Homo sapiens: one gene and its partners. The protein of the gene in region 4 interacts with the protein of the main gene of each other region in a pairwise test. Each region holds a gene or a part of one and is shown on either strand. Other genes may lie near its edges. The genes, in order: SERINC3, BCAP29, GNB5, DRD2, SLC15A4, ABCA2 and SMIM7.

The links.
Region 1: the proteins of DRD2 (region 4) and SERINC3 interact in a two-hybrid assay, tested with the Homo sapiens proteins (one large-scale study listed by BioGRID and IntAct).
Region 2: the proteins of DRD2 (region 4) and BCAP29 interact in a two-hybrid assay, tested with the Homo sapiens proteins (one large-scale study listed by BioGRID and IntAct).
Region 3: the proteins of DRD2 (region 4) and GNB5 interact in a protein complementation assay, tested with the Homo sapiens proteins (one study listed by BioGRID).
Region 5: the proteins of DRD2 (region 4) and SLC15A4 interact in a two-hybrid assay, tested with the Homo sapiens proteins (one large-scale study listed by BioGRID and IntAct).
Region 6: the proteins of DRD2 (region 4) and ABCA2 interact in a two-hybrid assay, tested with the Homo sapiens proteins (one large-scale study listed by BioGRID and IntAct).
Region 7: the proteins of DRD2 (region 4) and SMIM7 interact in a two-hybrid assay, tested with the Homo sapiens proteins (one large-scale study listed by BioGRID and IntAct).

The regions. Positions count from the first base shown.
Region 1 is NC_000020.11:44,511,871-44,516,056, forward strand, and holds part of SERINC3 (serine incorporator 3), read right to left. Parts: intron 2,171-4,186; coding exon 2,009-2,170; intron 1,125-2,008; coding exon 931-1,124; intron 1-930.
Region 2 is NC_000007.14:107,593,332-107,597,517, forward strand, and holds part of BCAP29 (B-cell receptor-associated protein 29), read left to right. Parts: intron 1-623; coding exon 624-774; intron 775-1,966; exon of another isoform or gene 1,967-2,535; coding exon 2,536-2,671; intron 2,672-4,186. Other genes in the region: DUS4L-BCAP29 protein, read left to right, coding at 624-774, 2,536-2,671. UniProt on the Homo sapiens protein: May play a role in anterograde transport of membrane proteins from the endoplasmic reticulum to the Golgi. May be involved in CASP8-mediated apoptosis.
Region 3 is NC_000015.10:52,184,698-52,188,883, reverse strand, and holds part of GNB5 (guanine nucleotide-binding protein subunit beta-5), read left to right. Parts: intron 1-4,186. UniProt on the Homo sapiens protein: Enhances GTPase-activating protein (GAP) activity of regulator of G protein signaling (RGS) proteins, such as RGS7 and RGS9, hence involved in the termination of the signaling initiated by the G protein coupled receptors (GPCRs) by accelerating the GTP hydrolysis on the G-alpha subunits, thereby promoting their inactivation.
Region 4 is NC_000011.10:113,426,414-113,430,599, reverse strand, and holds part of DRD2 (D(2) dopamine receptor), read left to right. Parts: intron 1-4,186. UniProt on the Homo sapiens protein: Dopamine receptor whose activity is mediated by G proteins which inhibit adenylyl cyclase. Positively regulates postnatal regression of retinal hyaloid vessels via suppression of VEGFR2/KDR activity, downstream of OPN5.
Region 5 is NC_000012.12:128,813,676-128,817,861, reverse strand, and holds part of SLC15A4 (solute carrier family 15 member 4), read left to right. Parts: exon of another isoform or gene 1-2,484; intron 2,485-2,791; coding exon 2,792-3,087; intron 3,088-4,186. UniProt on the Homo sapiens protein: Proton-coupled amino-acid transporter that mediates the transmembrane transport of L-histidine and some di- and tripeptides from inside the lysosome to the cytosol, and plays a key role in innate immune response.
Region 6 is NC_000009.12:137,018,119-137,022,304, reverse strand, and holds part of ABCA2 (ATP-binding cassette sub-family A member 2), read left to right. Parts: intron 1-303; coding exon 304-414; intron 415-694; coding exon 695-913; intron 914-1,243; coding exon 1,244-1,611; intron 1,612-1,809; coding exon 1,810-1,969; intron 1,970-2,998; coding exon 2,999-3,127; intron 3,128-3,234; coding exon 3,235-3,402; intron 3,403-3,489; coding exon 3,490-3,586; intron 3,587-3,953; coding exon 3,954-4,127; intron 4,128-4,186. UniProt on the Homo sapiens protein: Probable lipid transporter that modulates cholesterol sequestration in the late endosome/lysosome by regulating the intracellular sphingolipid metabolism, in turn participates in cholesterol homeostasis.
Region 7 is NC_000019.10:16,649,924-16,654,109, reverse strand, and holds part of SMIM7 (small integral membrane protein 7 isoform 2 precursor), read left to right. Parts: coding exon 1-75; intron 76-1,148; coding exon of another isoform or gene 1,149-1,248; exon of another isoform or gene 1,249-1,754; intron 1,755-1,837; exon of another isoform or gene 1,838-2,215; intron 2,216-2,267; exon of another isoform or gene 2,268-4,186.

The DNA of each region.
Region 1 (4,186 bases), on a different chromosome or scaffold from region 4:
CAGATCTAAGTTTCAATCTTAGCTCCAACCTCCAACTGGTTAACAGGTCTCAGACAATTTATTAACCTCTCTGCAGTTCAGTTACTACATCTGTAAAAAGGGGATTATAATACACATCAAGTTTATAAAACGCCATTCAGTCTTTGAGAATTAGAAATACGGCTGGGCACAGTGGCTCACGCCTGTAAGCCCAGCACTTCAGGAGGCAAAGGCGGGCGGACCACCTGAGGTCACGAGTTCTAGACCAGCCTGGCCAACACGGTGAAACCCCATCTCTACTAAAAATACAAAAATTAGCCAGGCATGGTGGCAGGTGCCTATAATGCCAGCTACTAGGGAGGCTGAGGCAGGAGAATCACTTGAACCCGGGAGGGGGAGGTTGCAGTGAGCCGAGATCACGCCATTACACTCCAGCCTGGGTGACAAGAGTGAAACTCCATCTCCAAAAACAAAACAAAAAAAAAAAAAAAAAAAGGAGAGAATTAGAAACATAGGTAAAAGGTGGTCAGGAGTCAGAAGCAATAGAATATGTAAATCAGTAGCACATATATATTCACTGACTTTTGTACACTGTTTAAATTTATCAGGTACATGTTTATCTTTAAACAACAGAAAGAAAAAAGTGTGTGTGTACGTAGTATCTAGCATAGTGCTTCAACTATTTAACAGGTGTTCAATAAAAATCTAAGAACATGAAGCAAAGGAATTTAATAGAAGAAAATAAAAAGACAAGACCCCCTATCCCCTCCATGTTACAGCAATCTAACTGAAAATGACATTAAAACAATTTCACATGCATAATAGATCAGAAATGCATCTGAGCCACTCATTTACATATTCCATTGATTTCATCAGAATGGCTATATTAACTGCTGAAGGGAAGGAAGAGCCACACCATAATGTAACCAGTTAATCATAAATCTAACATACCCATTGTGTACTGCCGCTCGGAGATCTTTACTTGTTTTTACTTTGAACATGAGCAGAGAAAAGACAAAGAAAAAGATGGCCATGGCAAAGCTGATCCGATACACAGCTTTATAACCAACCAGCACATCACAATCTTTATCTGCATTTATATCAGCCTCATGGATTTTAAATCCCCCTTCACAAAATCCAGGAATCTGGAAAAAAGCAATTTCAATGTTACGAGAATATCTACATTTAGACAGAGACTCTAACCCACTGCAGGAAAGCCTGGATTTAGAAAATTAACTACTTCAACAACTGCAAGACTGACTATGGAATTTTTCTCTTTGTCTTCCAATTCATTTACAATCTTGTTACCAAACAGTATAAATAACATGCATTTTAAAAATAAAAATGCTCTCTCGGCTGGGCACGGTGGCTCACATCTGTAATCCCAGTATTTTGGGGGACCGAGGTGGGTGGATCACGAGGTCAGGAGTTCGAGACCACCCTGGCCAGCATGGTGAAAACCCTATCTCTACTAAAAATACAAAAAATTACCCGGGCATGGTGGTGCATGCTTATAATCCCAGCTACTCGGGAGGCTGAGGCAGGAGAATTGCTTGAACCAGGGAGGCGGAGGTTGCAGTGAGCCAAGATCATGTCACTGCACTCCAGCCTGGGCAACAGAGTGAGTCTTAGTTTCAAAAAAATATGGTCTCTCTTCTTTGCCCTTTTAGGATGAAGAGGCTGTGTGCCACTTTCCTGTGAGATTTTCCAGCTACGACTGAGTCCTTCCAAAGGTGAAGAACTAGTCCAGTTTAGATGCTTCGACCTTTAACACATAAGGAAAGAAAATGTTTTGGAGCCACCCTTTTAATGTTTTCTCTCAGTTGTTCGACTGGAGCCCAGATGTTCATTCTGTATTTCTGGAAAAGGACTAATGTCCTCATATTTCTGTGTTTTGACCACACCCCCATATAAGTAAAAAATCTCCAAATTACAACCAACTTGATTAACAACGACGAAATAAAACTAGAATTTTGCAGAATATAAAAATAAAAATAACCAATACCTTAAGGGCACTGTTACTTCTTACCTTCTTCAAGTAAGTTTCCATCTCTTTTCTCTGCATGATATAGGATACGACAGTGCTCAGGAGGAGAATGAAAGCATAAATGAGGCGAGTCACCGTGGAATTCTTACTGTTAGGACAGCAACTACACAGCAAACATGAGGCACCGCTGCAGAGGCATGGAACCTGGAATGAGCACACCATGGTCACCTGAGACCGCCTTCAGTATACTCCTTTATGACACAGATGTCGCAGAAGAGAAAGCGAGGCAAATCAGGCTTTATAGTTTTAACTCAGAGAATCATGGCTGGGAGGAAGTGGTTAAAAGTACGGGCTCTGGAGTAAATATTATTTCTGCCGCTTTTTACCCCAGCAAGTTACGTACTCTAACCCCATTTGACCATTTGTAAAATGAGCTCAATAATGGAATTTTCCTCCCTCAGACTCTGCTGTATTAAATGAGCACTCAACACTACCTAAAATGCATTAACAGTTCAATAAATGTTAATTATATTCTGAGAGCATCATTTGTTTTAAAATATGAGAAAAATATAAACCTAACTCCACTTGCTGCTTACTGCGAATCCAAGTTACCAAAGCTGATATTACAACATAAAGCAACATGCCGGGCGTGGTGGCTCACGCCTGTAATCCCAGCACTTTGGGAGGCCGAGGCGGGTGGATCACAAGGTCAGGAGATCGAGACCATCCTGGCTAACACGGTGAAACCCTGTCTCTACTAAAAATACAGAAAAAATTAGCCGGGTGTGGTGGCGGACGCCTGTAGTCCCAGCTACTCAGGAGGCTGAGGCAGGAGAATGGCATGAACCCAGGAGGCGGAGCTCACACTGAGCTGAGATTGCGCCACTGCACTCCAGCCTGGGCTACAGAGCGAGACTCCATCTCAAAAAAATAAAATAAAATAAAAAAATAAAGCAACACTACATGGAAACCCTCTGACAAATAATAACAGCAAGGGCCATTTAGCTCAATTCAAGAGGAACCAGGTTCCTCAGAAAGTTAAATACAGAATGACCATATGACCCAGAAAGTATATACCCGACCCCAATAGCTGTTTTGTTTGAAACTGCTATTAAAACAAAAGCTTGTACACGAATATTCACAGCACCACTATTTACAATCACCAAAATGTGGAAACAACCCACTGTCCATTAATTGATAAGTAAATATGGCCTAAGTAAAAATATGGTATATCTGGCTGGGTGCGGCAGCTCACACCTGTAATCCCAGCACTTTGGGAGGCTGAGGTGGGCAGGTCACCTGAGGTCAGGAGTTCAAGACCAGCCTGGCCAACATGATGAAATCCCATCTCTACTAAAAATACAAAAATTATCCGGGCGTGGTGGCTCATGCCTGTGGCCCCAACTACTCAGGAGGCTGAGGCAGGAGAATTGCTTGAACCCAGGAGGTGGAGGTTGCATTGAGCTGAAATCATGCCACTGCACTCCAGCCTGGGCAACAGAGTGAGACTTGGTCTATCTATACAATGGCTTATTCAGACATAATAGATAGATACATGATAGAACACAGGTGAACCCTGAAAACATCATGCAAAGTTATTTAAAAAGCCAGACATGAAAGGTCACATACTGTATTAGTGCATTTATATAATAAAATATCCAGAATAAGTGAATCTAGAGACAGAAGATTAGGGGTTGAAGGGAAGGGAAATGGGAGTGATGGTTTAATGGGTAAAGGATTTCCCTTTAGGGCGACGAACTAGACAGATGTGATGGCAGCAAAACATTGTGAATGTACTAAATGCCACTATACGCTTTTTTATTTTTTTTTTTTTGAGACAGTCTCACTCTGTTGCCCAGGCTGGAGTGCAGTGGCACAATCTCGGCTCACGGCAACCTCCACCTCCTGAGTTCAAGCAATTCTTGTGCTTTAGCCTCCCAAGTAGCTGGGACTACAGGTGTGCAATGCCACCCCCAGCTGATTTTTTTTTGTATTTTTTAGTAGAGACAGGGTTTTGTCATGTTGCCCAGGCTGGTCTTGAATTCCTGAGCTCAGGCAATCCACCCACACTGGCCACCGAAAGTGCTGGATTACAGGCGTGAGATACTGCACCCGGCCCACTAAACATTTTGAAATGGTTAATTTTATGTCAACTTTACCTCCTTTTTTTTAAAGAGTAACCTAGGGCCAGGCGTGGTGGCTCACGCCTGTAATCCCAGC
Region 2 (4,186 bases), on a different chromosome or scaffold from region 4:
AGTGGTTCCCCTGCATCTGAGACTTCCCAGAACTGAAAGCATCAAAGGAGCAGCTATCTGAACCTTTCCAGTAGCAGCTGCTATGCACTAGTCGGAGGAGTGTATGCCACCACAGATCAAATCCCATGTTAACAAACTTATGCCAGTGGAAATTTCAGTATAACCAAATATTTTGAAAATCTCAATCATTTAAAGTAATAATATGTAATAAAATGCTAGTGTAGTAAGAGAAATGGGATAGTCTCTTGGAATTGATTGTAATGGGATATGACATCTGTCATTGTCAATAGGCTGAATTTTAGTCATCTTAGAGACAGAAAATGTAAAGGATAATAGTTTGCAGTGTAGTTAGAGATGAGAAACAATAAAATGATGGTAAGTACTAGATGAATAATTTTAAAAATGCTATAGTAATTCAAAATTTGCTACTAGTGTCCATTTATAGAGCACCTACTTTGAGCATGAAAAGTTCCCGGGTACTGTAGACGGAATGACATAAAGGTCGCCTCTGCCTAAAGTCCATTATTTAAAAGTTTGGTCAGTTTTTCTAAAACTGCTTTCCATTTTTAACAAGCTTATATTCGTAAAAGCCAAAAGTACTGTTTTCTTTTGTTCTGTAATAGATGCTGTGAGAGAAGTAAGGAAATATTCCTCAGTTCATACCATTGAGAAGAGCTCCACCAGCAGACCTGATGCCTATGAACACACACAGATGAAACTTTTTAGGTCTCAAAGAAATCTTTACATTTCTGGATTTTCCCTATTTTTTTGGCTGTAAGTAAAAAATAATAATAGAAGCACAATTTAAAAACATGACTTATGCTTTCCTTTCTCATTTTGTCCACCTTTACTGTAGATTTTTTTTTTTTTTAAGAGAGACAACCTTTCGCTCTGTTGCCCAGGCTGCAGTGCAGTGGTGCCTTCATAGCTCACTGTAACTTCAAACTCCTGGGTTCAAGTGATCCTGCCTCTTCAACCTCTCATTTCTAGGACTACAGGCGGCACACCACCATGTAGGGCTAATTTTTAAATTTTTTGTAGAGATGGGGTCTCACTGTGTTGCCCAGACTGGTCTCAAACTCCTGGCCTCAAGTGATCCTCCCACCTCAGCCTCCCAAAGTACGGAGATTACAGTCACTGTACCCAGCCTACTGTAGTTTTGTTTGTTTGTTTGTTTGTTTGTTTTTTAAGATGGAGTCTCGCTTTGTCGCCCAGACTGGAGTGCAGTGGCGCGATCTCGGCTCACTGCAAGCTCCACCTCCTGGGTTCACACCATTCTCCTGCCTCAGCCTCCTGAGTAGCTGGGAGTACAGGCGCCTGCCACTGTGCCCTGCTAATTTTTTTGTATTTTCAGTAGAGACAGGGTTTCACTGGGTTAGCCAGGATGGTCTCGATCTCCTGACCTCATGATCCTCCCGCCTCGGCCTCCCAAAGTGCTGGGATTACAGATGTGAGCCAACGCGCCCGGCCTGTAGATTTTTTTATAACATCTTTGTAAAAGAATTCAGATGATATACCCAAATAACAAACAGTAGTTAACAGCTTGTAGGTTTGCCCAGTCCATAAGGCCCTGAATGATTAGGCTCCTGCCTCTCTTTGGAGCCTTGTCTCATACGTGTCTCTGAGATGTACAATACATTCCACCCTTACAGACCTTCACCATTTATTCATTCATTCCATCTTGCAACAGATATTGATTGAGTTCTGTGGTGTACCTAACTCTTTCCCATTTTAGGGTCTTTACACAAGCTCTTCCTTTTGCCAGAACACTCTTTTCTTTCCTCATTTCCTGGCTAACTCTTACTCATCCATTAGCCTCTTTCTCAAAGCCTTCTGTGGCCATCACTACCCACAAAGTAGGTAGGTCTTCTCTTACAGGTGCTCAAAGAATGTATATATACTTCATTTTCTAGTGTCATTCATGGTTGTAATTAAATACTGTTTTAACTTTTGCTTCCACAACTAGGAGCTAAACCCCTGAGGGCATGGACTTTGCTGTTTTCCGCTGTGTCTGCAGTGCCTGGCAGAGTGTCTTAACACTTAGCAGTTCCTGAGTAAAGGAATGTCTGCTGAATGAATAATTGAAGATAGTCATCACTATTTCTTCTAACAATGGCAGTTACACATAAACGGATGTGAATGAGCTGTTCTTCGGCTTGTTTGACCTTACACAATGTTCCTTAAATAGCAGAATTTGAACTGGGCCAAAAAAAATAATTCTCCTACTGGCCCTGTCACACTGTCTGAAATTTTCCTGTTTCTATTCCTCCAAGCTAAAGCCTTCTACAGGAAAACAAATAAGTACCACTGAACCTGTATTCTAAATGCTGGTCTTCTAACAAAGATTCCAAAGGAATGAGACACGGGCCTGTTTTTACTAAGAGACTTGAATTAAAAAAAGAATAATGGGTTCTGCCTAAACATTATCTGCCACCACCACACCTATATCTAATGGGGAGTAATTTGGCAATGACTGTTTTAAAATAAGTTTCTGGTGATTGGCCAGTAATACATTATTCTGGTTTTTTTTCTTAGAGTTTTGAGACGTCTGGTTACGCTTATTACTCAACTGGCAAAAGAACTGTCAAACAAAGGTGTACTTAAAACTCAAGCAGAAAATACTAACAAGGCTGCCAAAAAATTTATGGAAGAAAACGAAAAACTAAAAAGGGTATTTAATTTTCTTTGTAAAAATTAAATGTTGTTGGTGTTCCCGAGGAGTAATGTATTTGTTTTCAGCATCAAAAAGAGCATTTTTATATTTTATAAGCAGAAAATGACCATAATTAACAATATTTTATGTAATGATTATTTCAAGAATAGTTTTACTGTTCTTTAGAAATGCTTGTTCACACTAATATTTTTACTATTATTTAGATTTGCTTTTTCTCCATAGTGGATTTATACCATTGGACCTATTTTCTGTGATTTAAGGAGAAAATAGTATTCTGGGAATATGAATTTTAATTCCTTCATTACCGTTAAGTTTACTTTATAATCTAAAGCAAGTCTTTATAACTGTTTCTATTTCTTTTTCAGTTAAAGTATTTTTAAGCCTAGATTTTCGTTTTCTTTTAAATGATTGGTTTATAGAAAGCAGAGAAACGTCATTGATGCTAGATTGATAATTGCACATAATATTTGAAATCTTTAATGTTATTCCTTTATTTTCTATCTTTTGATCTCATTTCACAGTGGCAAAAATAAAAACACAGTCATTAAAGCTTTGATTGATAGTGTTAACTAAACTCAAAAGCACGCAGCCTTGTATTTATAGAACAACTGATCATGTACATATCTTAATTTAAAATTATACACATCATTTTGGAGTAATGATTTGTAACCATCAGAACACTGCTTTTTTTCCTCTTCAATTGTTTTTCTCTTATTCTTTAGCTCTAAGAAAATGGAAAGTGTTATTTTTTTCATACATACCATACTTAATACACTTAAATTAGTCTTGCCCTTTTAAAAAAAGCACCTTCCTCAAAATACTTTTGCAACTTTTCTCTTGGAATTGTTTTCAGAACCATTTACCCATGCAAGGAAACTTATGTCATGATTACCAATTCCTTGACCCTGCGTGATTTATTCTTTCTGTTTGTTTGTTTTCCTCTCCTTTGTTTCCATACTGTCCTGATTTGCTGCTTCCTGCATAGCTGTGACCCAATCAGAGGAGGCACAGATATGCTGGGCTAAAGCCAGTACACAGTGGGGAGAAAGTCTTTGAGCAGCACATAAAAGCAGCTGTCAGTGCCCAGAGTATAACTAATTGACCAATAAAGTGACCAACAAAGGCCATAAGTGAGAATATAAAAGATGACGTCTGTTTCAAGGTACTTCATGTAGGTTTTGAAAAATAAGCTAAGGAAAGATAAGCTTGTGAAAACACCCCCTTTGTTTTGTCCTTCCTTCCTTTCTTTCCTTTCCTCTCCTTCCCTCCCTTCCTCCCCAGACTGATCTCAAACTTTTGGCCTCAAGCAGTCTTCCCACCTTGGCCTCCAGAAGTGCTGGGATTATAGGCAAGAGTTACCGCGCCCAGCCATACCTCTTCATTCTCTATCAGAGACACATTATCCAGTGGAAACTGCATTACCCTGAGATCCGAGAGACTTAGGTGCTAGTTCCAACATGTGACCTAGCACAAATCACCTATGTTAATGGGCCTCAAAGTTCCTTAGCTATA
Region 3 (4,186 bases), on a different chromosome or scaffold from region 4:
CAACAAACTAAGGGCAGTGAAAATGCAGGGCATGTGATGGGGGATTCAAGTTTTACTTTTTCATCTTTGGTACTGGTTCTTTTTAAAATAAACACGTATTTCTGTGGTAATTTTTTAAGTCACATATTTAGGTAAAACAGATATCAAAGAAAGTTTGTGCTTGGCATAAAGTTATTAGGGGAAGGTTTGAGAAGTTCTATGAACTACTGCAGAGCAACTTCATGTCAAAATTTGTTAAATGGGGCATTTCTGTCTTTCTTGTCAAAATGCTCATCGAAACATTGGCTCTAGCTGTGAAAAATTCTCTCATCATAAAAAGGATATTGACAATAAGTACAACAAAGTACTAAAATTTAGCTGATACAAATACTAAGTGAAAAACATCAAGATACAGAAATGTAATCAGTATACATGAACAGTATGACCTCAGTGGTCTCAAATCTATTCTTGCTACACCAAAATGTAAAAAGAAGTTTCTCTGAGTGGTGGGATTATAGGTGATTATCTTCTTCCTTATATCTTTTTTTCCCCCAAACTTTCTACAATGCATATGTATAATATTTACAGTTTAAAAATGCTTTAAATTTAGTTTGTAGCTTGCCCATGTTTAACCAGTGAGGTCTAAAATGCTAGCTATGTGATACGACTTAAGGCCCATAGGACTCAAAAATTGGAGTCTCCGTTAAAAAATGGTGTTTTCCAGTAATATGCAATGACGTGAAGATGAAAATGCTATTATATAAAGTAGTATATGGCATATAATTCCAATTTGTTAAAAAGTACACACATATATACTTATAAAGATACTAGAGGAAAACATAAAATGCCAACAGGTCAGTTGTTGGTGTAGGGCATGTGGGCGATTTACTTTCCCCTTTTTGTGTCCTTCTGTTTCCACTTATTTATTTATTTATTTTTAATTTTTAATTTTCTTTGAGATGGAGTCTCACTCTGTCACCCAGGCTGGAGTGCAGTGGCATGATCTCAGCTTACTGCAACATCTGCTTCCCGGCTTCAAGTAATTCTCCTGCCTCAGCCTCCCGAGTAGCTGGGATTACAGGTGCGCACCACAACGCCAGGCTAATTTTTGTATTTTTAGTAGAGATGAGGTTTCCTTATGTTGGCCAGGCTGGTCTCAAATTCCTGGCCTCAAGTGATCCACCCGCCTTGGCCTCCCAAAGTGCTGGGATTACAGGCATGAGCCACCACACCTGGCCCTGTTTCCAGTTATTTATAATGAACATTATCAGCATCTTTTATAATTTGAAAAAATTCAAAATTTAGTTTGAGAAGAAAAACATTGCCTCTATCTAGATATGGAATATCGGCTATCTTTTCAACTTGTCTTTCTCTCCCGTGCCTCCCAGCCATCCTTCTATTCCTCCTCCACTTGGTGCCATAGGTTCCTCTCGCCTTCCATTCCCATAGCTGCTCCTCTGTCCGCAGCTCATTTCCTCTTCTCCAGAACATAGCAATCTCTTAACCTAGTTTGTTTTCCTGCCGTCCCTTCTCTCTCTCTCTCTGACCTACTTCTGGAAGCACAAATGCTGGAATAATCCACGTGGATGACACTGCTCCCTTGCTTAACAGCCTGTGGCTCACCGTCCTAATGCTATTACTGGGAGTGTTCAGCCCAACCTTGTTACTGGCTGCCTTTACAGGGCTGGGGAGTGGGATGCAACAGTTACCAAGCCCCACCATGGGCCAGGCTCTGGAGGGCAGGCCCTTTTTTGTTAACTCACCTTTTGTGACAAAACCATGCAGCTTGACCATGCTAGCTTGGAAATAGGGTTCCAAAGTGTGTATTCATGCTACTTACAGACTCAGCTCTGCCGCTGACCTTGAACTTGTTTAATCCCCCTGCTTTTCCTCAGCTGTAACACAGATGTCCTGCCTCCCTCCCAGGGAGAGGCGAGGGCTGGGCACTCTGTGGCAGTTGGTAGCTGGTTTCCTTGCGAGCTGTTGTCCCTAAGGGATGCCCTGTACACCTTTGTTGCCCAGAGGTCTCGAACTGTGCTGACTGCCCCTTTGCTGTAAGAGCTCAGCCCAACTCATGAGCCCCCATTATCTCTCCAGCCCCAGGGTGGGCTCCACATGGCAGACGTTCCTCATCAGAAATGTCCCCAACTGTCACCTCCCCCATAAATGCATCCCTCTCAGATTTGACTCTGTTGAAATGTTCAGACCAGCGCCCCCAATTATCTTTATGTTCAGGGGTTCATTTCTTTGAATCTTGACGGGGCTCACTCTAGAACACCTACCAAATTGACAGGGCCACACTGGCTGCTCCCTTCCCCCTTAACCGCTTTGTCCTCATCTCCAGCAATGGCAACATAACCCCTCGGTCTCCCAAAGAAATCTAGGCCACAGCACCCACATCTCCCTCTCCTCAACTCCACATGCCAAATCCAGCTCCTTCTCTCTTTCCTAAGCATGGTCCAAGTCCATCCCACTACATTGCTTTGTGGGCCTAAAAGGAAGAGGCTGTAGCACAAACCAAGACTTAAGGAGTTTACTTGAGCCAAAGTGAGGACAGATTCCTGGAAGGCCCAGACCCAAGTAACCTTGGACATTATCTCTGTTTGGCCTTTGTTACAAGCAGTTTTTTTAAAAAGGCAAAAAAGAGGGACCGGGAGTGGGCTGATACAAAGTTGTTAGGAATTCTCATTAGTTTACAGAAATAACATTGATTAGCGACTGGTTATACATTGTTACACTACAGGGTGTGGGTTATAGTGTCCAGTGTGGCATTATTAGGTTATTTTTTAGCTACTTGTGCCAATGGCAAGCAGTTTCAAGAGATGAGGCCAGGTGTGGTGGCTCATGTCTGTAATCCCAGCACTTCGGGAGGCCGAGGTGGGTGGATAACTTGAGGTCAGGAGTTTGAGACCAGCCTGGCCAACATGGTGAAACCCTGCCTCTACTAAAAATACAAAAATTAGCCTGGCATGGTGTCTTATGCCTGTAATCCCAACTACTTGGGAGGCTGAGGCAGGAAAATCGCTTAAACCCAGGAGAACGAGGTTGCAGTGAGCCAAGATTGTGCCACTGCACTCCAGCCTGGGAGACAGAGAGATACTGTCCCAAATAATAATAATAATAATAATAATAATAATAATAATAATAATAAAAAGATGAATACACAGCTCAAAGTGGGGACTAGAACGTTATTGCTGTCTCATTTTCATGATTCTCTGGGCCTGATAATTTAAAAGGGCTTGCATTCCTCAGATAAAAGTTACTTTCTCACCTTTAGTCCATGACTTCCTCGCGTCTTGTCTGAACCGTTGCCATAGGCTCCTCTTATGCTTTCTTTGGCATCCCCAGCCTCACCCTGCCCCTACCCATGTCCCTCCTTCCCAAGGCAGCCACTGTTCCCGCTATTGCTGCCACTCAGGGCAGCATGACCTCGCTGGCACACTCCCTGTATTACCGACCTTGAGCTAAGTGCTTTACGCACTGACTCTTATCATTCTCTTGACAACCCCAGAAGGGTAGATTTTAAGATCTCCACTTGACAGATTAGCAAAACCAAGCTTCAGAGAGGTCAGCTAACTAGCCTCAGTGGTGGGCCGGGACCAGGCAGCCAGAGCCTGTCCCTGTAACCACTAGATGCTTGTGCTGCCTCCCTGCAGCGGCCTGGGCCTGTCTGTTGACTTCCTTGTGAACAGGCAGGGACCCTGGGTCTTTGGCTGTCAAATGTTTAATAAGTGAGTGCTTGCCTTGCACGGAACCCACACCACACTTACTCAGGCCCCTGGCTTTGGTTGGGGTCAGGCTCCATCATTTGCTGACCCTTATCTTTAAAAGTTCACCCTGAGGGGAGGAATGTTTTTAAAAGTTTTAAGTTATAGCATCCATTACAAAAACGTTTTCCATTGTGAAACCCCACAGAATTGATATTGTGCTGCAAGGATCAATCCTGCCTGACGCAGGTCTGCCAGCTGCCAAAAAACTGGTTAAACGTGTTAAGTTCAGAAAACCTATTGTCTGATGCTTTCTCACTGATTAAATGAGTTGTATTGACCCAGCATGTTGTAATAGTTGAAAGGTTATAAATTAACTGCATATACTCTATCCCACATGTAGACGTCTGAATAGCTACCACGGTACAAGCAAGAAGAGATTTTAGAAAGTTAAAACCATTGGCTTTTCTCACACCCCCTCCCTTCTTTTCACTTTTTTT
Region 4 (4,186 bases):
GGATGGGCTGGAGCTGCAGCAGGGAAGCCTGGGGACCAGCAGGTTTTCTCAGGCCCCTTGAGAAAATACCAGCTTAGAAATGCTGGGAAGGCCCTGTATTGCTATCCACTCTACAATGCACTTCCCCCTGCCCCCACCATTTTAATGTCTCTGAAATCAGAATGCATTTTACAATGGATGACATCTTGGAGCTCTACTGGGGTTGGATGGCATTTTTTTCTTTCCTAGTGATATATAAAATAGTGGTGCATCTTCATTCGATTTTGTCTTAGAGTCTATGAAATGTGGTGATTAGTATGACAGTCATCGGCTATAGCAGCTGGGCTGGGAGAGCTGTATCTTCCAGGCCAGCTGCTACCTCATCTCAAGGGTCACTTGAGTTTGTCCTACAGCCAGGGCCCAGGGACAGGCTTTGTCTTTTCCTTCCTTTACTTCCTCCCAAGGAGTTGGTGGCTGCATCTTGAAATCCATCTCCCTTCATCTAGCCACCTATTTTTCAGGATGGGCCATAGGAGGCAGTGGGCCCAGGAGGACCTCAGACCCTAGTGAGCTGCATTTGAACAGCAACAGTCACTTCATCTTGCTGAGCCGTTGGCTTGTGGTCTGATTGCTTGTTTCATTTCATTCTTTTGCTTGGTTTGATTTTTAAAGTTGACATTCTCAAGGGCTTACCTGTGCCTGGCACATGGCCATGAGTCATCTTACTTAATACTCACAATTGTTGTTATCTCTATTTTGTGTATGGGAAAACTGGGCTCAGGAAAGCCAAATAATCTGGCTGAGGCCCCAAAGTTAGTAAATGGTAGAGTTGGGACTTGAACCCAGGTTTTTTAGTCCTCAACTCGAATGTTATACTAGCACCTCTCAGGCTAGAGTACCTTCTCTGTGGCAGTGGATTTGCTGATGTCTGAATTCCTGCTCAGCTTGATGTTTACATGGTGAGAGCCAGCTAGGCTGCCCCTGCTTGTGAGAGGTGAAAGCCCCAAGTAGATAAGGTGCTGAAGACACGATAGAAACCAGGACTGACACCAGGTGTTAAAAGATAGCCCTGTACTGGCCGGGTGCGGTGGCTCACGCCTGTAATCCCAGCACTCTGGGAGGCCGAGGCAGGCAGATAATGAGGTCAGGAGATCGAGACCATCCTGACTAACACGGTGAAACCCCGTCTCTACTAAAAATACAAAAAAATTAGCTGGACATGGTGGCGGGCACCTGTAGTCCTGGCTACTCGGGAGGCTGAGGCAGGAGAATGGCGTGAATCCAGGAGGCGGAGCTTGCAGTGAGCCGAGATAGCCCCACTGCACTCCAGCCCGGGTGACAGAGCAAGACTCCATCTCAATAACAAAAAAACCCCCAAACAAGCAAACAGACAAAAAGATAGCCCTGTACCAAGGTACTTATAGGGGTTACAGGTATTTAGGCATTTGCCATGTTTTCCCTTTTTTTTCCTATGGTGTAAATATACTACGTTTGTATTAGCAACAAAAAGCAACGAGAACAACCAATAATAAATAATAGATTAGAAAATCAAATGTGTGAGGCCTTTCTCAGAACTTGGGTACAGGGACTCTCCCTTACCCTGCAGAAGTAACCAGCACTCCAGAGAATGAATGCTCACCCTCAACCCCACCTGACCTGCAGTGCTCACATTTGCCATCTACATTGTACTCATAATTTTAAATCCTAGACTAGTGCCTGTAATCCCAGCACTTTGGGAGGCCAAGGCAGGAGTATCTCTTGAGGCCAGGAGTGTGAGACCAGCCTGGGCAACATAGTGAGACCCCCATCTCTACAAAACATTTTTAAAAATTAGCCAGGCATGGTGGCACATGCCTGTATTTCCAGCTACTCAGGAGGCTGAGGTGGTAGGATCACTTGAGGCCAGGAGTTGAGGCTGCAGTGAGCTATGATTGTGCCACTGCACTCCAGCCTGGGTGGCAAAGTGGGATTCTGTCTCTATTAAAAAAAAATTAAATCCCAGTTTACATCCTCCCTCCTCCAGGAAGTTCTCCACAAACGCCCCAGCCACACACATGTGCATATGCTCCTGAACATCAACTGTAGTGGACACGGTGGAGTGCCACCCAGATCCCCCTGCAGGACCACAGCCCTCATCCCCATCTACTGGGAGTGTTGGCAACTGACAGTTTTTGGCAATTGCCCACTGCTGAGGAGAGATGCCTCTTTCAAGGCCTCGCTGCTTTCCCTGGGACAGCCAGAAGCTGTGACATCTATGAGAGGGGATTAAAGGCCCTACCCTGTTGCCCTCATTTAGGCAACTGGCAGGGTGCCCTGTGGGGTCACCTGATGCCTTTCTTGTGACTTCTCCCTCTGGCCTGTCCTGCTTCCTCACTTCTTTGCACATCTTGATCCTGAGAGCATTCCCCTGTACATTTCCTGCAGGCTGATTTCCTCTTCAGAGTCTACTTCTAGGGACCTGTATTAGTCTGCTCTGGCTGCTATGACAAAATTCCACAGATTGGGTGGATTGAACAACAGAAATCTGTTTCCTCATAGTTCTGGAGGCTGGGACGTCCCAGATCAAGGTGTCAACAGGGCTGATTTTGCTTAAGGCCTCTCTCCATGGCTAGCAGATGGCCGCCTTCTTGCTGCATTCCCACTTGGTCTCTCCTCTGTGCGCGCATCCCTGATGTCTCTTTTTATGTCCAAAGCTCCTCTTATAAGGACTCCAGTCAGATTGGGTTAGGGCCCACCCTAAGCGTCTCATTTTAACATAATCAACTCTTTAAAGGCCCTGTATCCTAATACAGTCACATTCTGAGGTACTGGGGGTTAGGACTTCAACATATACATTTTGTGGGTTGGGGGAAGAGCATAGTGCAGACTGTAACAGGACCCAACATGCAGCACCTATGGCACCCTTGGGGTGCCTTACTTTTTCATCACTTGTTAATCTGGTAGCCTATGTTAGCAGGTGCCTTTCAAGTGGGAAGGGGTTTTCTTCCCAGTTGCACTAACAGAGCCTTTGATTCAGTTCAGCAAACATCTGTTGAATACGTACTGCCCACAAACCAGAGTCAAGAGTTGGGAAAGAACAAGATAGTATGGTTTTTATTTGTTCATTCCAAGAACAAGAGGAGGAATGAGCAAGACATGTTGTAACTCTTGTGATGTCTACACCCCAGTGAAAAAAAGAGACTCCTAAACAGGTGTCTCCTGCAGCACTGGGGTGTGTTTCAGTGCTGCAGGACCCTGAGGAGGGTGGGTGATGGCTCAGGCAGGAGGATATGGGTGGATTCTAAGACAGGAGGATTCTAGGCAAGACTCACTTTGAAGGATGCATAGGGACTGGAAAAGCAGAGGGAAGGGAAGTGAACAGAAGAGTTTTCCAAATCCCTTTCTTATTAAAGTAGGGATAATAATTAGACAAGATCAAGCATGTTCCAGGTAGTATGGCCATAGACAGGGATAATAATTAAAAGCCTCCGAGGGTTGTTTTGAGGATAAATGAGACAGTATATCCAAAAAACTTAGCAAACTATCAAACCCTTTACAAGTATATGATGCTATCATCAGCAGCAGGGAGTGGGGGGAGAAGAAGAGAGCGATGGTCAGGATGGGGGCAGTAAGTGTGCCTCACACGCCTCAGGCCCCTGACACTGCTTTGCACAGTGCTTTATGCCCAGCAGGTTCAATAAATGCCGATTGAGTAAATGAATGTCAGAAGCAGCCCCAGGCACCTGATCAATACATACATGCAGGCCTCCCGCTGTGGGCTCCAAATGGGAAGAGGGCTCAGTTGGTTTTGCAGAATACAGCATCAATATGACATATGCTTCATTACCTTAGAACAGGAAGATTTGCTGCGTGGTGGCATTCCATGTCACCCCACATGGAATTAGGCACTTTGCTTTTCCCCGAGGCTCCAGAGTGATGGTGGTTGGTAGGACATGATCCATATTCTTCTACTAAAGCTGGAAGAGTGGGTGTGTCAGACAGGGATGAGAGTGTGGAGATTGGGCAGACCCTCTTCCACCATCCTCTCTGACCCATTGCTGGAGGTGTGCCCTGTTCATTGATTGGACATGGCACCACATTCATCCCAAATGGCATCAATTGGTGGTTTTCAATTTGCAGTAGCAAAGTACCTGGAAGTCATGTGCTTTGTATGAAACACCTTGGAATGCTGATAAGTTTAATTCTATTCTGTAAAAGAGGAAGACTT
Region 5 (4,186 bases), on a different chromosome or scaffold from region 4:
TGCTCGCCAGGGGCTGGGAAGCATGTGATGTCCCTTCACAGCAGCCAGGTTCCCTTGGTACAGAAATGCCTGCTGTGTGGTTATTTAGGGCTTAGTAATTTTGGCTTATAAAGTAATTTTGATGGATTACTCTTGGAGTTGGAATAAATTGACCACCACAATTACACAGGAAATGAGGATGAATGGCATTTTAAGGTTAGGATTTTCCCAGAGTAATCAAATGCTGATATTTTCATGCTTCATCTGAAGAGGACATAAGTCTGAGACTGTGGGAAGATATGTGCAGTGTCACTGTGGGTAACGGGAAGGCCCGAGTGAGACCGTGGGAAGGTGTGTGCAGTGTCACTGTGGGTAATGGGAAGGTCCGAGTACATTTCAGTTAGGAAATCATTTGTGCCTCTATTAAGTTTATATACTATGTTTACTGGCCTCTTTTATGCTTGTCAAAAAATTACTTTTTGTTTGTTATTTTTTCGCACTTCTAGTTTTGTTTTCTCAGTAACCATTTCTCTGCTCACATTTTTCATTTTTCTTCCTGGTCCATGTCTAGTATAGCATGAGAATTGGTGTCCACTGTTGAGCAATATTTAAATGCATTGTGTCCTAGTGAAGAAGTGTCTTAGATGTCTGTGAAGTTCTCACCTCAAACTCTTTATTCAGTAGAGATGTCTGCATTTGGTCTAGGACCTCTGTTCAGTATTGTAATAGATAAGAGAAAAGTTTAAACTCTTGAGAATAAGTGATTTTCTTTTAAATTTAGATTTTTCGTTTGAAGTGGTGTTACTATATATAATTAATTACCTGCCACCATAGTGGCCATGCTTAATCATTTGGACTTCAAACAAATCTCTTTTTGAGGAGCACACAATTTTTTTTCTTTTGCTCTATTTCCTTTAGAGAGGAACACACAATTTTAACTATAAATTTTACTCCTCTGATTTAATCTTTAAAAAATAGAGTTTAAAATACCATATCAAATATATGACTGCTAAAAAGATGCATGTGCTTATTACATACCATATCTTTTTTTTTCTTTTGAGACAGGGCCTCTGTCGCTTAGGCAGGAGTGCAGTGGTGCCATCACAGCTCACTGCCACCTCCTCCCCAGTTCAAGGGATCCTCCCACCTCAGTCTCGCAGGTAGCTGGGACTGTAGGCGCACACCACCGCACCTGGCTGATGTTTGTAATTTTTTGTAGAGATGGGGGTCTGTCTGTGTTCCCAGGCTGCTCTCAAACTCCTAGACCCAAGCGGTCTGCCTGCCCTGGCTTCCCAAAGTGCTGGGATTCCAGACCTGAGCCACCATGCCCAACCGTAATTGGTTGTTTTGGCCCCATTGAGAATGTGTTATTCAGTAGAGCAGATTGTTCTATGGATCCAGAAACTAGATCTATTATTAGAATAAGAATTTTCTAACTCTTTCATAACCTGTGACTTAAGAATGAGACAGTAGAAGTTTTTAAGACAGCAAGAGAGTCTTTTTATGAGATCCAGTATCAGCCTCTCATAAGTTTGTTAAAAATAAATTTATGAAATGAAACTCACTAGAAATGTCTCTGTCTAGTACAGGGTTCATTTGCACAGTATCTTATTTAGACGTAAAAATCCAGGTGGGCAGAGAAGGCTTCTGGTGTGTCTGCCCCCAAATGACCTGTTCCCACCGCTTGGGCTCCATTGAAGTAGCCTCGTGAACTCCATAAGCCTAGATGTTGCGTTATTACCTCAGTGCTTTTGTTTGAGTCCAGGAAGTCAGTGATTTTTGAGCCTTTTGGAAATCCCACCCTTATCAGAATTTCTCCGATTCCATTGATAGCCTGTCTAATCTAAAAATAGCATGTGGTTTTATCTTTAGTCTATAATTTCCTCTTTGCTTCAAGTTTACTGAGATCTCTGATTCTCAGGAGACCAGATACAATTGGTGTGGGTGGTGACTTGGCCTCACTGAACAAATGTCTCTCTTTGGGGCCTAAGCATATTTGTGGGGTGCCTCATGGTACTTGCATGTAGCTCAGTAAGGCATGGAGCTTTATAACATTGGTTCTAAAACTTACCTGTGAGTAGAAGTCACCTGGGAAGTTGCTTGAAATGCAGATTCCTGGGCCTGGGCCCCAGAGACCGTGATTCAGTAGGTCTGGAGCGTGGGTCCTGTGACTGTGTTTGTTTTTTGTTTGTTTGTTTGTTTGAGATGGAGTTTCACTCTTGTCAACCAGGTACAGTGGCACAGTCTCGGTTCACTGCAACCTCCATGTCCTGGATTCAAGCGATTCTCCTGCCTCAGCCTCCCAAGTAGCTGGGATTACAGGTGCCCACCACCATGCCTGGCTAATTTTTGTATTTTTAGTAGAGACGGTGTTTCACCATGTTGGCCAGGCTGGTCTCGAACTCCATACCTCAAGTGATCCACACGCCTCAGCCTCCCAAAGTGCTAGGATTATAGGCGTGAGCCACCATGCCCAGCGGACTCTGTTTTTAAAGAGCATTCCAGGTAATTCCAAGGCAAGTGGTTCAGGTACTTAGAAAATTCTACAGCAGAATATACTTGGAAAAACTCTCTAGCATTTGTTGGAATTTAGTGTAATTAAGTGAAACCTACCTAGCAACTGTAGTAATTAAAAGCGTGGGGTGTGCTTTTTGTTGAGATCCGTGAATGTTTCTGTAAACACAATTTTGATTGTGTTGCGCTTCTTAAAGGTTGTGATGACAACGGTAATTTTAACCACTTGACCGTATATGGTTTTCATCCTTGAAGACTGTCATATATTTTCAAGTGTCTTTCCTCCCTGTTATTTTAGGTTAAAGATCGAGGTCCGGAAGCCACTAGGAGATTTTTTAATTGGTTTTATTGGAGCATTAACCTGGGAGCGATCCTGTCGTTAGGTGGCATTGCCTATATTCAGCAGAACGTCAGCTTTGTCACTGGTTATGCGATCCCCACTGTCTGCGTCGGCCTTGCTTTTGTGGTCTTCCTCTGTGGCCAGAGCGTTTTCATCACCAAGCCTCCTGATGGCAGTGCCTTCACCGACATGTTCAAGATACTGACGTATTCCTGCTGTTCCCAGAAGCGAAGTGGAGAGCGCCAGAGTAATGGGTAAGCACTTAGTTCTCATCTTGGGCTGTTTGAAAGGACTTTATCGATCTCTTTATTAACATCCTAGCTTCGGTTTGTTGTGTGCTTATTGTGTGCTGGGCCTGGGCTGAGTGGTTTACATGTCTTCTCTCCTTTAACACTGCATTTCCCCAAGGAGGCGGGTGCGGTCTTATTATCCCATCTTAAAGACAGGCCAGTGGCCTGATTCCAGAGCTCATGCTTTAACCCCACGTTGCACTTTCTCTCACTGCTAGTGTAGACGGAAGCTCCTTTGGTGCCAGATTATAAAGGTAGAAATTTGTGGAGGACATCGAGGAGACAGAAGACATGCTTTATACATGTTTCTTTTTATTTTAAAAAGCTTTGAAATACATTTGAATGAAAAACTAAGCAGTTGCTTATGCTGTCAGTACCTGTCTCTGCTCTTTAAAAAGTAAGCCACTGCCTCTTACCTAAAGGTCAGCATGGGCTCCATCATACAGCGGTCAGGTCCATCATACGGCGGTCAGGTCCATCATACAGCGGTCAGGTCCATCATACGGCGGTCAGGTCCATCATACGGCGGTCAGGTCCATCATACGGCGGTCAGGTCTGTAACTCTTGACAGGAAGGTGCAGTAGCAGAATGGCGAGATGCACTGAGGGTAACCAGATGATCTCATGGGACTTACCCAGTGTTAGCACCAAAGTCCCATGAACTGAGGTGTTAAAACAGAAAGGCCTGTGTCCTCAGAACCCCTCCAAGTCACTGGCCAACTATGACTCATGTTTGGTGATGTTGGATGCCAGTTAATAAAGTCCAGAACTTAAGCCCAAGAAGAGAGCTCAGAAGTGTTTGTGTTACTCTTTATTGAGGAATAATTTACAGATAGTAAAATTTACCCCTTATATCTGTACAGTTTTGTGAATTATGACAAACTTACTCAGGTTGTGTAACCACCAGTGCAGTCAAGGCATAGATTATTTCCATCCTTCCAGAGAAGTCTCTGGGACCTTTTGTAGTCAGTCCCCTCATGGAATGTTTTGATCAACGTAGAAATGCCTGGAGGCTGCTGGGTGGGAGGCTGATCACTCAGCCATCAGAGCGTCCTGTGTCTCTG
Region 6 (4,186 bases), on a different chromosome or scaffold from region 4:
GCCACGCCCCCTGGTTGCTGAGCCATCCTCAGGATGCTCAGCCTGAGTCACGCCCAGACCGTCTGAACCTTGCCCCCACCATCTGAGCCACGCCCCCACTCTCTGAGCCATGCCCCCACCATCTGAGCCACGCCCCCACACCTACATCGGAGCCACGCCCCCACCATCTGAGCCACGCCCCCACTCTCTGAGCCACGCCCCCACCATCTAAGCCACGCCCCCACACGTCCATCGGAGCCACGCCCCCACCATCTGAGCCACGCCCCCCACACCCCATCTGAGCCATTCCCCCACACCTCCTAGGTCTACCACCTGCTCTTTGGTCCCTCATCTGCCCTGGATTCACAGTCTGGCCTCCACAAGGGTCAGGAGCCCTGGAGCCGCCTAGGGGGCAATCCCCTGTTCCGGATGGAGGTGAGGGCATCCATGTGTGGGATGGGCCTGGAGTGCTGCCTGCCTCTGGGGGTGCTTCTGCTCCGTGGGTGAGGAAAGGGCCCCTTTGGTGACTTGGAGCTCCTCCTGGGAGAGGGGGAGGGTCCCAGGGGTCTATGGCAGGCATGAGGGGTAGAGGCATGTCGTGGGACCCAGGCAGCCCCAGAGCCAGCCAGTGGGTGGGGCAGGGTGAGGCCTGAGGCCCTAGTGGTTGGGGACAAAGTCCTTGCCGTGGCTCCACGGACCCCTGTGCCCATCCCAGGAGCTGCTGCTGGCTCCTGCCCTCCTGGAGCAGCTCACCTGCACGCCGGGCTCGGGGGAGCTGGGCCGGATCCTCACTGTGCCTGAGAGTCAGAAGGGAGCCCTGCAGGGCTACCGGGATGCTGTCTGCAGTGGGCAGGCTGCTGCGCGTGCCAGGCGCTTCTCTGGGCTGTCTGCTGAGCTCCGGAACCAGCTGGACGTGGCCAAGGTCTCCCAGCAGGTGAGGCCCTGCCTGCCCACTGCCCGCTGCGCTGCTTGCTGCCTGAGTTGAAGGAGGGGCTGGGACCGCTTGGAGAGCTCAGGGCTCCTGGGCCCAGGCTGTGCGTGGGATGCTGCCTGTGGGTGGGTATCCAATGGCACCATGGCTGGTGCCCCACTCCTGCTCACCATCCCAGCTCCTGTCCTGGGCTCCCGTTACCCAGGCTGCAGACTCCCTCCCAGCACCCCTAGCTTGTGTCTCCCTGCTGCTGTCTCCCTGCTCCACTCCTGACCTATCACCCACCTGCAGTCCATCTCACCCCGCACTGCCCACGTGCCTGTTTCCCCTCAGCTGGGCCTGGATGCCCCCAACGGCTCGGACTCCTCGCCACAGGCGCCACCCCCACGGAGGCTGCAGGCGCTTCTGGGGGACCTGCTGGATGCCCAGAAGGTTCTGCAGGATGTGGATGTCCTGTCGGCCCTGGCCCTGCTACTGCCCCAGGGTGCCTGCACTGGCCGGACCCCCGGACCCCCAGCCAGTGGTGCGGGTGGGGCGGCCAATGGCACTGGGGCAGGGGCAGTCATGGGCCCCAACGCCACCGCTGAGGAGGGCGCACCCTCTGCTGCAGCACTGGCCACCCCGGACACGCTGCAGGGCCAGTGCTCAGCCTTCGTACAGCTCTGGGCCGGCCTGCAGCCCATCTTGTGTGGCAACAACCGGTAGGTGGGCGGCAGGGGAATGGGGGTGAGGAGGACAGCCAGGGGCAGGGCGTGAGCCCTGAATCTAGGCTCTGGCTCTGGAGGTCTCATTTGGCGCCCTGCCCTGTGCCCCGAAGTCCTGCCCCATCCCGATGCCCCTCCCACTCTCGCGGCCCTGCCCCCTAACGGCCTGGCCCGGCCCCCTGTCCCCTACCCCAGCACCATTGAACCCGAGGCGCTGCGGCGGGGCAACATGAGCTCCCTGGGCTTCACGAGCAAGGAGCAGCGGAACCTGGGCCTCCTCGTGCACCTCATGACCAGCAACCCCAAAATCCTGTACGCGCCTGCGGGCTCTGAGGTCGACCGCGTCATCCTCAAGGTGCACGGGTCTGGGACGCTCCATGTTTGACAGGCAGAGTGGGAGGGGGTCTCTGCAGGCCTGGGACCCCTGGGCAGAGGGTGTCGGCAGAATTGACACGGGAGGGGTACGGGGTGCAGCTTCGGATGGGACACAGGCTCTGCAGGTGGGGGACCAGGGGGTCGCTTTTCCTTTCGGGAGCTCCAGGGGCTGCTGTGGGAAGGCACTGGAGAGTCTGCTCTGGCAGGGTCCTCCGGCTGGGGGTGGCCGGTCCAGGGCAGTGCTGGTGGAGGAGGGGTGTGTCCAGAGACCTTCCAGAGTGTCTCGTGGGCGGGCAGCTGGGCAGTTTGGGTTCTGGGTGAGGGGTCCTGTCTGGAACAAGCAGAGGCCAGGGCTGGACATTGGCCTGGGAGGGGAGGGCCTGTGGACGAGGCCAATCCTGGGTGTAGAGGGGGTCCCTAGGATGAGGGTGGGACAGATGAGGGTGGAGCATTGGGTGCTTAAGGGACACATGGAGACAGGTCCAGCAAAGGAGCTGGTGGGCACAGCTGGGCAGTTGGGGGTCCGGAGGCCGTGCTGCCCTGGGAGTGGAGGGCAAAGCAGGTTTCACCTGAGCGCCGCAGAAAGGAGTGGAGAGCCCGGGCGTGGGACTCACGCTTGAAATCCCAGCACTTTGGGAAGCCATGGTGGGAGGATCGCTTGAGCTCAGGAGTTTGAGACAAGCCCGAGCAACATAGCGGAAGCCCGTCTCTACCAAAAATACAAAATTAGCCAGGCGTGGTGGTGGGCACCTGTAATCCCAGCTACTTGGAGGGCTGAGGCGGGAGGATCCCTTGAGCCTGGGAGGTGGAGGCTGCAGTGAGCTGGGACTGCACCACTGCACTCCAGCGTGGGTGACTGAGACCCTGTCTCAGGAAAAAAAAAAAAAAAAAGGTGGGGAGGGTTAGTTGTTGGCAATGGACCAGCCACTGGGGAGGTGAGTGGGGTGAGAGCCCCCAAGTCGGTGGGGGTCCGTCCAGAAACTCCATGCCCCTGCCTCACCCCCTGCAGGCCAACGAGACTTTTGCTTTTGTGGGCAACGTGACTCACTATGCCCAGGTCTGGCTCAACATCTCGGCGGAGATCCGCAGCTTCCTGGAGCAGGGCAGGCTGCAGCAACACCTGCGCTGGCTGCAGCAGGTGCCAAGGGTGCCCGCGAGGGAGGCGGCTGTGGGTGGTGTGGGGAGCCCCTCTCTGCCCGGCTCGGCAGGCGCAGGTCCCCCTCTGAGCCGCCCCTCCACCCCAAGTATGTAGCAGAGCTGCGGCTGCACCCCGAGGCACTGAACCTGTCACTGGATGAGCTGCCGCCGGCCCTGAGACAGGACAACTTCTCGCTGCCCAGTGGCATGGCCCTCCTGCAGCAGCTGGATACCATTGACAACGCGGCCTGCGGCTGGATCCAGTTCATGTCCAAGGTGAGCGGTGGGGCCTCCGAGCCAACCCACGACACCCCCTGCCTCGCACATGCCCACGGCGGGCTCCAGCGATGCCCCTCCCGCTAGGTGAGCGTGGACATCTTCAAGGGCTTCCCCGACGAGGAGAGCATTGTCAACTACACCCTCAACCAGGCCTACCAGGACAACGTCACTGTTTTTGCCAGTGAGCTGCCCTCCCCGCCCCGCCCCAGCCCCCCACAGACCTCTTCCTCCCCAGCCCAGCCCCACCCGTCCCCCTGTGCCCTCCCACTCCTTGGCCGCGCCCTGGCCTTCCCCCCTCACCCGCCACTTCCCCTCCCCACCCCTGCCCCTTCCAAACGGCCCCAACCCACAACCCGCCCCCTCCCTGCACCTCCCCACTTCTGCCCACCTTTCCCCTGGGGCCCCCACCCCAGCCCTGTCCCACCTTTCCCTGGACCCTCCTGTCCCCGCCCCCACACCTTGGCCCCGCCCCCGTGCCTTGCTTTCCCCCCCACCACGCCTTGGTCCCGCCCCTGCATCTTGGCCCCGCCCCAACCTCCCGGCCCCAGGTGTGATCTTCCAGACCCGGAAGGACGGCTCGCTCCCGCCTCACGTGCACTACAAGATCCGCCAGAACTCCAGCTTCACCGAGAAAACCAACGAGATCCGCCGCGCCTACTGGCGGCCTGGGCCCAATACTGGCGGCCGCTTCTACTTCCTCTACGGCTTCGTCTGGATCCAGGGTGAGGAGCAGGCCCGGAAGACCGGCTGGAGGATTCATGGGGGAGGACAGGTGTGAGGA
Region 7 (4,186 bases), on a different chromosome or scaffold from region 4:
ATTCTTGCTGAGCCTCAGATACTTTCGAATCTTCATCGCCCTGTGGAACATCTTCATGATGTTCTGCATGATTGTGTGAGTCCAGCCTGCCCTTTCCTTTCACTGTCGTCTCTTAGTCTCCTTCTCCAGGGTGACCCACCTGATGGTCATTCTCTGTCTTTTCAGTCATCACTCTTGTATCCTGGTTTCTGTTTTCTTTATTTTTTGTTTTGTTTGAGATGGAATCTTGCTCTGTCGCCTAAACTGGAGTGCAGTGGTGCGATCTGGGCTCACTGCAACCTCGGCCTCTTAGGTCTAAGCGATTCTCCTGCCTCAGCCTCCCGAGTAACTGGGACTACAGGTGCGTGCCACCACACACGGCTGATTTTTTGTATTTTTAGTAGAGACGGGGTTCCATCGTGTTATCCAGGATGGTCTTGATCTCCTGACCTTGTGATTCGTCCACCTTGGGCTCCCAAAGTGCTGGGATTACAGGAGTGAGCCACTGTGCACGGCCCTGTTTTTTTTGTTTGTTTGTTTTTGTTTTTGAGATCGAGTCTTGCTCTGTTGCCCAGGCTGGAGTGCAGTGGCGTGATCTCGGCTCACTGCAACCTCTGCCTCCCTGCTTCAAGCGATTCTCCTGCCTCAGCCTCCCGAGTAGCTGGGATTACAGGTGCCCACCACCACACCTGGCTAATTTTTGTATTTTTACAAGAGACAGGGTTTCATCATGTTGGTCAGGCTGGTCTTGAACTCCTGACCTCATGTGATCCACCTGCCTCGGCCTCCCAAAGTGCTGAGATTACAGATGTGAGCTACCACACCCGGCCCTGCTTTCTGTTTTCAAAATAAGTAAGTGAGGGAACCAGTATCTGAAGGGGTTAAACTCTGTCCCTGTGTCCCCACCAAACCGGGCTGGAACTTTTATTGGAACATGGAGTTCTCCAGCCCCCGGCTATGCCCGGCACCTCTGCAGGGGCTGCCAGGAGATGCCGTCCCTGAGCCCATGGCCCTGTCACGTCTCACCAGTTCTTCTGCATCTGCCGAGGTGGAAAATATGGTTTAAATGTCCAGCACACTGCCAGATCCTGCTCCACCTGGGCTGGAAGCCAGTAGAAATGTATTCAGACTTTATTGTTTTAAATTCTGGCTTTTCATTTTCTCATTAGGCTGAGAAAACTCAAGCAGATTGCCTTTCCATCTAGCACTGGGGCCATAACTCTGATACTACTGTTAACGAATTGTGAGATTTGCTGTAAATGGATTTAGGAAAAGACACGACGGGAGAATCTGGTGTTCTTGGCCTCTGTGGGTCCATCCCTGTATGCTTCCCCCAGAAAGAGAGAGGACAAAAAGTTGTCTGTCCTGAGTGATTGAGACTCCGAATGTGGGGTTGCTGTCCAGTCTGCGTGCCACCCCAGTGGCTGTTTGCGAAGATGCTTCCAGGACATAGGAGATCTGGGGAGGATGGCATTTCACCCTCATCACAAGGACCGTGATGTATTCCCAGGAAGACTGTTGCCAAGGTATCCTACCTGGCAGAGAGGATCTGAGAGCATGTATGAGACTTGCCTAGGAACAAAGAAGGCTTGTGAGGAGATCAAGGAACTTACATGAAATTGTAGGAACGGCCAGGGGCAGTGGCTCAGGCCTGTAATCCCAGTACTTTGGGAGGCCAAGGTGGGAGAATTGCTTGAGCCCAGGAGTTCAAGACCAGCCTGGGCAGCATGGTGAAACCCTGTCTTTACCAAAAATAAAAAAATTAGCCGAGTGTAGTGGCGCCTGCCTATAGTTCCAGCTCCTCGGGAGGCTGAGGTGGGAGAATCACTTGAGCCCTGGAGGCAGAGGTTGCAGTGAGCTGAGATCCTGCCACTGCACTCCAGCCTGGGCAACAGAAGAAGACCCTGTCTCCAAACAAATAATAATAAATCAAGACCTAAAGGACAAGAAGACGTTTGCCATTTGCAGAGCTGGAGAAAAGCATGGTGGCACAGGAAGTGGCATGTGCAAAGGTCCTGGGGCAGGGAAGAAGTCAGCATTCTTCCCTCATTCTCGTCTTTGCAAAGGTCCTGGGACAGGGAAGAAATCAGCATGCTTCCCTCATTCTCGTCTTTGCAAAGGTCCTGGGGAAGGGAAGAAGTCAGCATGCTTCCCTCATTCTCGTCTTTGCAAAGGTCCTGGGGCAGGGAAGAAGTCACTATGCTTCTATGCTTCTCTCATTCTCGTCTTTGCAAAGGTCCTGGGGCAGGGAAGAAGTCAGCATGCTTCTCATTCTCATCTTTGCAAAGGTCCTGGGGCAGGGAAGAAGTCAGCATGCTTCTCATTCTCATCTTTGCAAAGGTCCTGGGGCAGGGAAGAAGTCAGCATGCTTCTCTCATTCTCGTCTTTGCAAAGGTCCTGGGGCAGGGAAGAAGTCAGCATGGTTCTCATTCTCATCTTTGCAAAGGTCCTGGGGCAGGGAAGAAGTCAGTGTGCTTCTCTCATTCTCGTCTTTCCTGTGCACCTGCTTCATCATCCTCTCCTGTTTGACCAGCATCTTCACTCCCTCATCTGCTAGTCTGTGACCAGAACAGCAGCCTCGGGCATCCTCCCAGCTCAACTTTCCAAGACCTGCATAGTCAGTAGCCCAGGGTCCTGATTTTGTTTCCTGGGGCAGAGTCTGATTGACCCACCTTGGTGTCACTCTGGTCCATTTGGGGTGGGGGTTCTTGATTCTGCCATAACCACTTAGGTCAAGGGTCATCAGACCACAGGCCAAATCTCCCCACTGCCTGTTTTTGTGAATGAACTTCGCAAAAGTTCATGTGTGTGGCTGCTTCTGTGTCACAGCGGTGGAGTTGAGTTGTGTGACAGAGATGACATGGCTTGCAGAGCCAGAACTGTTAGTAAACAGTCACCCATTACAGAGAAAATGTGCCAACCTCTGACCCAGGCCAACTCTTTCACTGGGGGCCATGGGTGAGAGAAGATTCTCTCAAGAAAGGGCCCTCTCAGGGAGGTAGTGACTGGCTTTCCCAGGATATTTAAAAACTGGAAATCACCTAAGTGTCCAAGAACAGGGGAAGGATCAGGTAACTTGAAGGATGCCCATGTGACTGGCTGTCACAATACCATCACTGATGATGTGCCAGAAGGTTCTGTCTGCATGGGGAAATGAAACGTTCTGAAAGTGAAGAAGGCCGGAGGGTACTATGTCTGTGCAGCCTAACTTCAGCTGTGTAATGTGCATGCAGTAACCATGGATAAACCTTAAATGAGTGCCTTAAGTATGGGAGTGAAACACTGTTTAGCCAGGGAGTTGGAAGGATCCACTCCAGATGGGGTAGAGAGGTGACCCTGTGGCAGTTGCTGAGGAAATTGGCAGAGCCTGGGCATGGTTCAATATTCCGTGTGCCTATTTCTTCTTTTTTTTTTTTTTTTTGAGGTGGAGTCTTGCTCTGTCACCCAGACTGGAGTGCAGTGGCACAGTCTCAGCTCACTGCATCCTGCATCTCCCAGGTTCAAGTGATTCTCCTGCCTCAGCCTCCCAAGGAGCTGAGACTACAGGCACGCACCACCACACTTGGCTAATTTTTCTATTTTTGGTAGAGATGAGATTTCATCCTGTTGACCAGGCTGGTCTCGAACTCCTGACCTCAAATGATTCACCTGCCTCGGCCTCCCAAAGTGCTGGGATTATAGGCGTGAGCCACCGTGCCCAATCTCCCTGTGCCCACTCTTGTGTTGTTTGAGCTTTGGAAAGTTTAAGAAGTTATGAAAAGTCTGAAATAGGGGAGAAACGTCCCTGAGTATTTAGGGATCAGTAGCACTGTCATCTATAACTTACATTGAAACACATCAAAAATACGGATAAATGGTTAGATAGATGGATAGGTATGTGGTACAGCAAAGTGTTAATTGCAGAATGTAGGTGGTGGCAGTGTGTTTCAACACAACTCTTCTGTGTGTTGAAATTTTCATAAAATAACAAGAGGAAAAGTTAGGGAGAAAATGAACCATGGAGAGGTTTTACAAGTAAAAGGCGGAAGTCTGTCTTCACAATCCGGTATTTTATAGAATATTCACAGGATTATGCAGCCGCTATCTCTATCCAATTTCAGAACATTTTCATCAACACAGAAAGAAACCGCGTCCCCATTGGCAGTCACGCCCCATTTCCCCTCCCTTAGTCCCTGGCAACCACTCGTCGGCTTCCTGTCTCTGTGGA